Linked DNA regions of Homo sapiens: region 2 is linked to region 1. Evidence: fine-mapped expression QTL. A gene starts in region 1. The other region holds a variant in brackets. All regions are shown on one strand. Distances are from middle to middle.

Region 1 (5,371 bases):
TAATTTTAGTAGAGACGGGGTTTCACCGTGTTGCCCAGGCTGGTCTCGAATTCCTGAGCTTGAGCAATCCTCTCACTTCTGCCTCCCGAAGTGCTGGGATTACAGGTGTGAGCCACCAAGCCCGGCCTAAAAATGAGATGTTATACATTTACTTCAGACCCCAGATTCTACAATCCACAGGCAAGATAAGTGGCATCAGGGGAGGACAGCAGAAAACTGTTAAGTGCGCCTTGTGGAACCCAGCGGTTACAGTTTCAAGTCCACAGCCCAGTAAAGTCTGAGACCCCAAGGGAGGGAATGAGAGGGAAAGTGGGTGCCTGCGTCTGGGTCCCTCAACCTGCCTGCCTATGTAAGGACCCAGTGGGGCACAGGACAGGAGATCTGGGGCACCAGTATTTGCCTTCAGCGTCAGACGATCTACACAGGACAGGAGGCAGGTGGGAGGACTGAAGGAAACAGCCTCTGAAACGGTCAGTCTGGAGGCAGCAGGCGTGTGGGCCTCAGGGGTTCCCTCCAGGAAGGCCGAGGGAACAGAACCGCAGGGGCAGAGCACAGGTGTAGCAGAGAAGGGCTCAGTGCCAGTTCCTTTGAGAGACGGTCAGGGAGCGGACAGAGGGGGCCCATAGCCGACTAGGGGCGGCTTGGTCATGGGCTCCTCTTTCCTCAGTGGGCTGAGGGGTTAGGTCCTTTGAGGAGCGCTGAGGAGACTGTGGTAAGGGGAAGCGCCCTCCATCCCAGAGGCTTTCCTGGAACAAGTGGGTTGGAAGGACCAGGTGTTTGGGAGCTGCTGGGAGCAGGTGCAGAAGCCAAGGCATTCCCAGATGGGGGAGACTGGGGGTGGCAAGGTGGCTTTTCAGGGATCCAGCCTGCATGCCACCTATGCAGCCATGCTCCGGGGGCGACATCCGCCTGTGTCCTTCAGCTCTTCCTCAGCCTCCACCCGCCACCCGGGAGTCAGTGCCTGGACTGGAGCTCTAGCTGGAGGGCGTCTAGGAAAGGTCCCAAGGGGTGCGCAGGATGACCTGGTGTCTCTCCAGAGTCACCCCTGCTAAAATACTATGTGGCCAGCCCCAAGTCAGTTGCAGGTCATGGTGTTGGGATCTTCCACAAGGCCTCCTGGAGTCGCGCTGGGGGAGGGTGGGGTACTCAGTCTGTCGCAGAGCCCCAGGCCATCCGTCGCCAAGAGGAGCACTCCAGCGCTTCCCTCCTAATGCGTTCTTATCTTGCCGGGAGGAGAACTGGGCCAGCCTTACTCACCCAATCTATGCATGAGGCTTCCCCAACGCGCCAGAAGCCCTTCCTTCGCAGAGGTGGGCTTGCCCCGGCCTGTCCCCGTTCCTCTACCATGGTTAGGGCACAGTGGCCGAGGACTCCGTCCCAGCGCGGCTGAGCCGGAAAGCGATGGCGGCCGGAGGGGTCGGGAGGTTGGTTAGCGCTTTACGGAGCTGCGTGTTCCGTTTCCAAGGGCTGTAGAGCCTTCTACTGGGAGCCACCGTGGATCAGGCCAGGGGTTCGTCAGCTGCATTTGCCGGATCGCATCGCAGCACGCGCACCCACACGCGCACACGCCCTACTCGCAGGAGACTAAGCGCCCCGAAAAGGCGCGTCCCCGGGCGGGTCGCAGCCGGTCCAGGAAAGGGGACAGGGCGCAAGGGCCATTTGGGGAAGGAAAAAGGGGGCGAACCATGACCTTGACCTCATAGAAGGCCGAGGACGTGAAGAGGCTGGCAGATAAGTTGGCGAGGCTCGCAGCGAAAACCCAAAGCAGCCGAGCTCGGAGAGCGCCGTCTCAGCGGGCGAGGGCGTAGCCCGGGGAATGCACGGAGGTCCGTCTAGTCAGTCGGGGCGCGCTTCCTGGAGGAGGAGGAGAAGGACTTGCGGCCGGAGCTACCGGGATAAATGCAGGAGGCGGGGCAGCCAGCGGGCGTGGCCCTGCGGAGGTCCCCGGTCGAAAGGAGGAGACAGGGGCCGGCCGCGTACTTAAAGCGGACGCGGGGGAAGCCCTCCCGGGGTCTGCCTCAGTCGCACAGCTCGGTGGGCTCGTGGCGCAGTCGAACGTTTTCCCAGAAGCTCCCCGGCCCCGTCCAGCCCCTAAACTCGCGACGCTGGGTCTGCTGGGTCCGGCGCGCACAGGCTCGAAGGAGCCGGGTCTACTCGGTTTGGCCCAGCAGCTGCGGGCGGCGGGGAGCAGCCCAGCCCGGCTGGAGCAGCCTCCCGCGGGTGAGGGCGCGGGGCGGGCGGCCGGGTCCCAGCCCTCGGCAGCTCTGCCTACCGCGCCCGGGCGCGGCGTCTGAGCGGCATTAGGACCCAGGCGCGGCGTGGGGGTGTGTCGCCGGCTCCCGCCGCCGGCCCGCCCGAGTCGCCGAGTTTGGGGTCCAGAAGCGCCGGAGCGCCGCGTGAGGAGCCCGGCCGTGAGTGCGCGAGTGTGCCATGGCCGCGGCCACCAGGCGCGTGTTCCATCTGCAGCCGTGCGGTGGGTGCCTGAACCCGGGGGCGCGGCGGGAAGGCCGCCCGGGTCTCCGCCACCGTCTCCCGTCGGGGACCCCGGGGAGAACGCGGATGCCGTCTGCCTGCGCGGGCCGGGGCCGGTGGGCGAGAGGGCTGCGGGATTCCCAGCCGCGGGGAGGAGGGCGCGGGTGCGGGAGGCCCGGGCGCGGCTTCGCGGCCACCGCGCGCTTGGTTTCATTAGGGCTCTGCTGTCGCCGTCTTGAATTTCTTACCAGGTTTGAACAGCTGATGCAGCGGGTCGAGGGCGGGGAGCTCGAAAGTGGGCAGGGCGGAGCTGTGGGGCTCCCAGCGCCCCGAGCGCCGAGCTTTTGGGAGCCTGGCGGGCCGCCGCCTCGGAAGGTCTCATTTTACCTTCCGCCCGGGCATCTTCCCGTCCGGCGCCGCGGTGGGAGCCCCGGAACCCCTGGAGTTTTGGGAGTCCCGGGACCCCTGACCGTGCCCTGCGCGGCCGCAGCGGTTTCTCCCTTGCTCTGACACGGGAGGGCCAGCCCTGGGTCCCCGCCAGGACCCAGGTTTGTACGACCCTTTACCTGCACGTGGGCCGCCGGGACGGAAGCGGAGTGTGCACCGGCCCAACCCTCCCAGACCCTCGTCGCCCACGGCCTGGGACGCGCCCCAGCGCCCCCGCCCCCCACTTCAGGATGCAGCCCCGGCTCCCGCCCCGCGCCTGCATTCACATCCTGCGCCCCGACCCCCGGGGTCTCCGAGTCTGGAGGCGCTTTCCTCTCGTGCACGCGGCCCCTCCTGTCGCTTCCTTCCTCCGACAGCGAGGCACAAACAGCCGGGACCATCCGGGGACCGGCCCAGGGAGGGCGCAGCCTCCCCCGACCCATGTGTCCCTCAGATACTCCTCCCACCCCCAATTGTTCTCCCTTTTGGACCAACGGCTCTGGCTTCCAGGCGGCCGGGACGCGGTCCCAGGACTGGAGACCGTTGCCTGTCGGCCCCCGTGTGACCCGGGGCGCGTGACGGGGGTCGGGGGAACTGCGCCTGCAATGGGCGTTTATGGCCCCCAGGACCGGTCTGAGAGTGAGAAGAGGGATGTGCAGAGAGATCCCCCGCCTTGGCATCCGAGGAGAGAGGGGGAGAGGCCCGCTCGGGCCCGGTCCCTTCCTCTCGCTGCAGCGGGGCAGGGTTTTCTCAGGAAAACCTGGATTAGCGAACATGGTACTGGTACTAACTCGGTGGGAAGACATCCCTGGAACGTCTCTCCTCCTCGCCTCTGGCCCGCCTGGGCAGCCCCTAGCAGATGGGCTAAGCAATTGAATTTCTGAGATTAAGGCTGGCTTCCCCTGCTATGGGGCCCCCTCCCGAGCACTGTCCCCTGCTTCCCTTTCTCCCTAGGGTGGCGTGGGTTGCATCCCTCGGAAGAGCGAAGGAATGAGCCAGGTCGGGGGGCGGGGAGACAGGTGCACACAGGAGGTCCAGGGCTTGGTCCATGGGGCTGGTGACCTTTCTGCTTCCCTTGCAGAAAACTCTCCCACCATGTCGCAGAATGGATACTTCGAGGATTCAAGTGAGTACCTCTCGGGGAGTGTGTGTGTGCAGAGAGAGCTTGTCGGGCAAAAGCCTCCAGGGTGCATAGCCTACCCACCAGAGTCCTGTGGCTTTGCTCGCCTATCTGGGCCACTCTAGTGCTGGAATGCTTTTGGCTTCCACTCTTCGGGAAGCTAGACATGGGCGGATCCCCCGTGGACCTGAGAGGGCAGGCTGCCCATTCTCCTGGGCTACTTGGACCAGGTGAACCCTCTGGGATTCTTACCCAAGGTTTTCTGTGACAATGGCCTGTTATCTGACTAGCCTTGGGCCAAGAATTCTGTGTGCCCCTGTCCCTCTGTCCTCACCCAGCCCTGGAGGGAATATCTGTCGTTGTCTCTTTAAAGAAATATAAGGCCTCTGTGCTGCAGTCCCTCGGGCACCTTCCTGCTGTCCCTGCTTGTACCAGTCCAGCTGTCTTCCTCCTCATGTCTCTGGGCTGGCTTCAGGCTGTGTCCTGTGCCTAGCCCCATGAGTGACCTGACCATTCGAGGGTTGTTTGTAGAGCAGTGCGTAGACACAGGGCTGATGTTCCCTTACCCAGAGCCCTCAGGACATGGGGCTCTGTGTGCTAGGCTGCTGGTGGGCAGGTTACGTATGGGGCTGGGACTAGGACTTGGCATTGCAGGAGCCCCCCAGGAACCTGGTAGTGTCAGCTGGGCAGGTCCTTAATCTAGGGGACCTGAGCACTAAGTCTAAGGTAGAGCTGAGGGCATCAGGGGAAGAATGGGGGAAGAACGGGGCTGTGTGAAGGGCAGTGGAGGGGACTAGTGGGTGCTGGTTGAGGGGCAGAGGGGAGGCTGGGACAAGTTCGGGCCAGGGGAACCAGACAGTTTAAACAAGGCAAGCCTGACCCGGGGAGGAAGGAGTTTATCATGAGCTCCAGAACCAAAGCAGTGAGGACGTCTTTTGTTTTGTTTTGTTTTGTTTTGTTTTGTTTTGAGTCTCGCTCTGTCGCCCAGGCTGGAGTGCAGTGGTGTGATCTCGGCTCACTGCAAGCTCTGCCTCCTGGGTTCACACCAGCCTCCTGCCTCAGCCTCCCGAGTAGCTGGGACTACAGGCGCCCGCCACCACACCCGGCTAATTTCTTTTTGTATTTTTAGTAGAGACAGGGTTTCACCATGTTAGCCATTGTTAGCCAGGATGGTCTCGATCTCCTGACCTCGTGATCCGCCTGCCTTGGCCTCCCAAAGGCAAGGATGTCTTTTGACCTAATATTTCTTCTCTGGGCTCTGGAGGTAGTGCAGGCCTGGGCCTGGGAGTCACCAGTCCCTGGGGACTTTGATGCAGGAGGCACTAGGGCTTCCTACCCAGAAGGGGCCCAGGC
Region 2 (5,371 bases), 95 kb before region 1:
CTACAGACAAAAAATATTTTTTTTTTGAAATGGGGTCTCGCTCTGTCACCCAGGCTGGAGTGCAGTGGCTCAATCTTGAATCACTGCAATCTCCGCCTCCTGGGTTCAAGCAATTCTCATGCCTCAGCCTCCTAAGTAGCTGGGACTACAAGTGCGCACCACCATGCCTGGCTAATTTTTGTATTTTTAGTAGAGACAGGGTTTTGCCATGTTGGCCAGGCTGGTCTTGAACTCCTGACCTCAAGTGATGCACCTGCCTTGGCCTCTTAAAGTGCTGAGATAACAGGCATGAGCCACCACGCTCAGCCCAAACAAAAAATCTTGAAAACAGCCAGAAAGAAATAGCACCTTACCCATAGGGGGAAGACAATTTTTTTTTTTTTTTTTTTTTGAGACGGAGTTTTGCTCTTGTCACCCAGACTGGAGTGCAGTGGCATGATCTCGGCTCACTGCAACCTCCACCTCCTGGGTTCAAGCTATTCTCCTGCCTCAGCCTCCCAAGGAGTTGGGATTACAGGTGCCCACCACCACACCTGGCTAATTTTTGTATTTTTAGTAGCGACAGGGTTTCACTATGTTGGCCAGGCTGGTCTCGAACTCCTGACCTCAGGTGATCCACCCGCCTCGACCTCCCAAAGTGCTAGGATTACAGGCGTGACCCACCATGCCCGGCCAACAATTTTTGAGTGAAAGTTGTATTTCTTTCTCATCAGAAACCATGAAGGCCAGAAGGAAGTGGCACCTATATTTCAAATGCTGAAAGAGAAGAGTTGTCAACCTAGAAATCTGTATCTAACAAAAATATCCTTCTAGAATTAAGGGAAAATCAAGACATTCACAGATGAACGAAAACTACAAGAATTTGTTGCTGGAAGACCTACCTAAAAGAATAACTTAAAGAAATTTGGTCTAAACAGAGAGGAAATGATAAAAGAAGGAATCTTGGAACATCAGGAAGGGAAGAGAACAAAATGATCAAGGCAGTGTACCACAGAATTATATACTTTAAAATGGTTTTATCTCAAAAGTTGCCAAAAAAATAAAAATAAAAAACCACCCAGTGTATATCCACATTATAGATTGTATTATAAAAGCAATTTCTGCTCTCAGGTCTGTATCACTCCAAAGCCAAAGAGTTTTCACTCATTAAGTCAGTAATCCTTGTTGAATGTCTAGTAAATGCCAGTCACTGTGCTAGATGAAGGGATAGTCATGATCTTTGCCTTTGAGGATCTCATAGACTTGAAAACTCCAGGGAAAGCCAGCTAGGAAATGTTTGAACCGAAACACATTGCTTCCTTTTTCCTTCTGAGTCGTGAATTTCTTATCATCCTGGGGCTGACTTGAGAGCCAGCTAGGAAATGTTTGGAGCAATAATTTAGATGTCCATTACACGCCTATTAGAATGGCTAAAATTCAGAAGACTGACAACACCAAATGCTGGTGAGGATATGGAGCAACAGGAACTCTGATTTATTGCCGGTGGGAATGCAAAAAGGTACAGTCACTTTGGAAGACAGTTTGGCATTTCCTTACAAAACTAAATATAGCCTTACCATAAGATCCAGCAATTTCGCTTTTTGGTATTTACCCAAAGAATTAAAAACTTATGTCCACACAAAAACCTGCATATGGATATTTATAATTACCAAAACTTAGAAGCAACCAAGATGTCTTTCAGTAAGTGAATGGATGCTATTTAGGGATAAAAAGAAAAGAGCTGTCAAGCCACAAAAAGCCATGGAAGCTCCAAGATTCTGATGTCTGTACTGAGTGGACAAAGAAACTATTCATTTGGAGAGGGAACACTGAGGAGAGTCAGATTGGATGTGTGTGAAGTTCACTTTAGACAGTGAGTTTGAAATGACCGTGAGACACCCCAGTGGAGCTGAGGCGGCAGTGGGTTAGATACATAAGTCTAGGGTTGCGAGGATTAGTCTTGTCTAGAAGTAAACATTTGAGCATTCCCTTGGTATGAAGGGGGTAATTAAAACCAAGGCTGTGGGTAAGATTATCTGGATATATATTGTTACTTATTTATTTCAAAATCTTCCTTTGAATACAAGGATAGGTACCTTTACACCAGACATCCA[A/G]TGAAGCTGTCTTGAGGTTCTTCTTGTTTTTTATAGTCTTCCAGGAAAGCTCGCAATTGATTCAGCCTGACTTAAAATGTTTTTAAGAGTCGTGCTCTATGACACCAAGGTTTAGACAGTTACTTATTTTAACTACTTAAGACAATCCAAAGTTCTTTCCTGAGAGAAATGTTGACTCTGTGTATAGATCCCATTCTACTGGCCAACACCTGTGCTGGTGTGTTGATCTTCTGACTGAGATAGACTTCAGATTCACGTACTCAAGTGTACACAAGTGAAAGAGAACTGTGTCACTTCAAATCTGGGGTTTAAACCATGTGACTTTAACTCAATTCATAGCACAAACACTTGGCACCTTTAAAAAAAAAACCTTTAATAAGGGAAAATTGGAGATCCAAGGAACATGTTTTAATTGAGGAAATATGTATCAACCAGCAATTAGAAATACCTCCATGAGTTTTCATTCATTGTCATGGCAATATTGATGATGTTCACTATTAGTAACTTTTTTATAGCTTAGTTAGAATAAGTTCTCATTTCCAATCTGTAACTTGGATTCACAATGTTATAGAAAAATGCCTTGAATTCTAGTGTTGTTGTCTTAAACAATTGAGTAAAATAGAAGGAATGAGTATTTGTGTTGTATTTAGCTACTTTTTGTATATTGTACTTACTAATGTTCCTTTAGTTCTTGTGGTAGTATTTTTGCATTTTATACCTATTATTCTAGGAACCCTCATGAGATGTTGGATTTTCAGAAGAGGAAAGGACATCTATTTTATCTCTGTATCAATGAACATCTTAACAGGGAAGAAGAATAAAAATTTGAAAACCTAGAGGAACTTATTTTCTCTTCCGCAGGGTCTATGTACAGAGATGAAATACAAATGGTTGTGGGGATGTGGATAGCACCATCCTTTCCTGAATTTGGAGCTGTCCCACACCTCTGCCTGTCATGTCAGCCAGGGGCTTCACTGTGAAAGCTCTGGACTAAGTATTAATGACAGTCAAAACCCAAACACCTTGCTTCCTTTTTCCTTCTGAATCATGATTGCCCTAGCATCCCTGGGCTAACTGAGTATCCAACAGCACCCTCACAATATAGCCAAGGTTTAAACCACACACACACACACACACACACACACACACACACACCACACGCACACACGCACACACGCATGCACGCACGCACACGCACCAAAAGATACCTTTGGAAAAACAGTTAAAGATCATCTTTTCCCCTGTGTCTTTAAAAAATAATAAATCTGTTTTGTAGAAGAAAATTTATTTCTGGCCAGGTGCAGTGGTGCACACCTGTAATCTCAGCACTTTGGGAGGCCAAGGCGAGCAGATAACCTGAGGTCGGGAGTTTGAGACCAGCCTGGCCAACATGGCAAAACTCTGTATCTACTAAAAATACAAAAAAAAAAAAAAATTAGCTGGGTGTGATGGCATGTGCCTGTACTCCCAGCTGCTGGGGGTGCTGAGGCAGGAGAATCACTTGAACCCAGGAGGTGGAGGTTGCAATGATCTGAGATTGCGCCACTGCACTCCATCCTACATGACAGAGTAAGACTCTGTCTCAAAAAAAAAAAAAGAAAATTTATTTCCATTGACTCTATACTTTTTGTTTATCTACTAGTACATGCCTAAGTTATTGCCCCTTTTTATTTTTATTTTTTTCTGACATCCAGGTAGCCCAGTGTGTCTCACCAAAGGGACCTCTTGCTTGTTCGAGAACATACTTTTTTGGAGCTACTCATGTTCCTTACTTGGGTAAGTCCCTATAAGTTGTCATCTCATCAGCTTATCTAATGAATAGTCTGTCCCATGAACTAGAAGTTGACATACAATTCACTACTTTGCTTGGAAGCTCAGGTTACCCAATTTGTGGGCCTCCAGCTCCCTCTCTGATTACTTCTGGATAGTTGATATGTCTAACACGTTTCTCACAGAATGTGTTTCAAGAGGAAGATGATTGGTGCAGCCTACATTAAGTCTAACCATGTGTATAACCCTTTGCTAGGTGTCACAGGGGAGGCCAAGATGAATAAGACCTAGTTTAAGAAAGCAGGAGGTAGGGACCAGGAATGGCGGCTCACGCCTGTAATCCCAGCACTTTGGGAGGCCCAGGCAGGCAGATCACTTAAGGTCAGGAGTTTGAGACCAGCCTGGCCAACATGGCAAAACCCCATCTCTACTAAAAATACAAAAATTAGCCAGGCGTGCTGGTGCACACCTGTAGTCCTAGCTACTCAGGAGGCTGAGACACCATAATCGCTTGAACTTGGGAGGTGGAGGTTGCAGTGAGCCAAGATTGAGCCACTGCACTCTAGCCTGGGCAACAGAGTGAGACTCTGTCTTAACAACAACAACAAAAAAGCAAGAGGTGGGGTCCGCAGTGGGAATTTGGATGACTCAGCCAGGTGCCCACTGGACTGTTCTTGTGAGGAAAGTGAGAAGAGGCCATAATAAAAGGGTACTTAGGAGCAGGAGCATGCTGTGGGGCCATCCAGAAAGGCTAGGCTTGCTGGGGCTGCCCTGCTTACTGGGGTAACCAGAAGTTGCAGGTATCCAAAGACACATGGAAAAGAACCTATGGAATGAACGCAGGTCTCAGCATTGCTACACAGAGGAGAGTACGTCAGGAACCGTATTTTATTCTGGATGATGTTAAATAAGCCAGGAAACTCTGGAAAGAAGCATAACTTGGGTCAGGTAATTAAGGAGATAAAGCAAGAGGTAGAACTGAGCCTGTTTACTGATGTCTCGAAGTTTAAAAAATTAAAAATAAAAACAAAAACATTCCAGAACCTAAGATTCCACACATCTCTGGTATTTAGTGGTGTTGCTGAGTGGGTTGTAAAAGTGGAAAATGCGGGTGAAGGTTCAGGAGGCTATTGGGAATGGCCGGGTTCCACTGTTGTTGGTGTTTGTACTATATTTAACTTAAAAGAAAAAAGTAGGCTGGGCATGGTGGCTCACGCCTGTAATCCTAGCACTTTGGAAGCTGAGGTGGGTGGATCACTTGAGGTCAGGAGTTTGAGACCAGCCTGGCCAACATGGCAAAACCCCATCTCTACTGAAAACACAAAAATTAGCGGGGCATGGTGGCGTGCACCTGTAATCCCAGCTACTCAGGAGGCTGAGGCAGGAGAATCGCCTGAACCTGGGAGGCGGAGGTTGCAGTGAGCCGAGATTACGCCACTGCACTCCAGCCTGGGCGACAAAGCTAAACTGTGTCTCAAAAAAAAAAAAAAAAAAGTGTAGTTCTTGAC

Alleles and levels. Alleles are on the strand shown, and positions count from the first base shown. SD is a standard deviation of normalised expression in the study named.
For the expression in fibroblasts of the gene that starts at base 2,378 in region 1, allele A in region 2 goes with a lower level than allele G (small effect, 0.32 SD a copy in GTEx).

Evidence for each region. PIP is the estimated chance that this variant, and not a neighbour inherited with it, causes the effect. A credible set is the group of variants that fine-mapping cannot tell apart.
Region 2: its variant is the best candidate, but not a certain one, in a credible set for the expression of SLC4A11 in fibroblasts (GTEx, PIP 0.53).

Annotation. Positions count from the first base shown.
Region 1 is chr20:3,236,197-3,241,567 of GRCh38, reverse strand. SLC4A11 (solute carrier family 4 member 11) reads left to right here and starts at 2,378. Exons shown (of 20, transcript NM_001174089.2): 1 at 2,378-2,473; 2 at 3,980-4,024. The coding sequence starts at 2,431. RefSeq lists silencers at 2,129-2,288, 2,389-2,568.
Region 2 is chr20:3,330,778-3,336,148 of GRCh38, reverse strand. DNAAF9 (dynein axonemal assembly factor 9) reads left to right here. Exons shown (of 37, transcript NM_001009984.3): 11 at 3,788-3,869. Among named protein-coding and RNA genes, the nearest start is that of DNAAF9, 74 kb to the left of the region's middle. The variant A/G (reference allele first, on the strand shown) is at 2,094.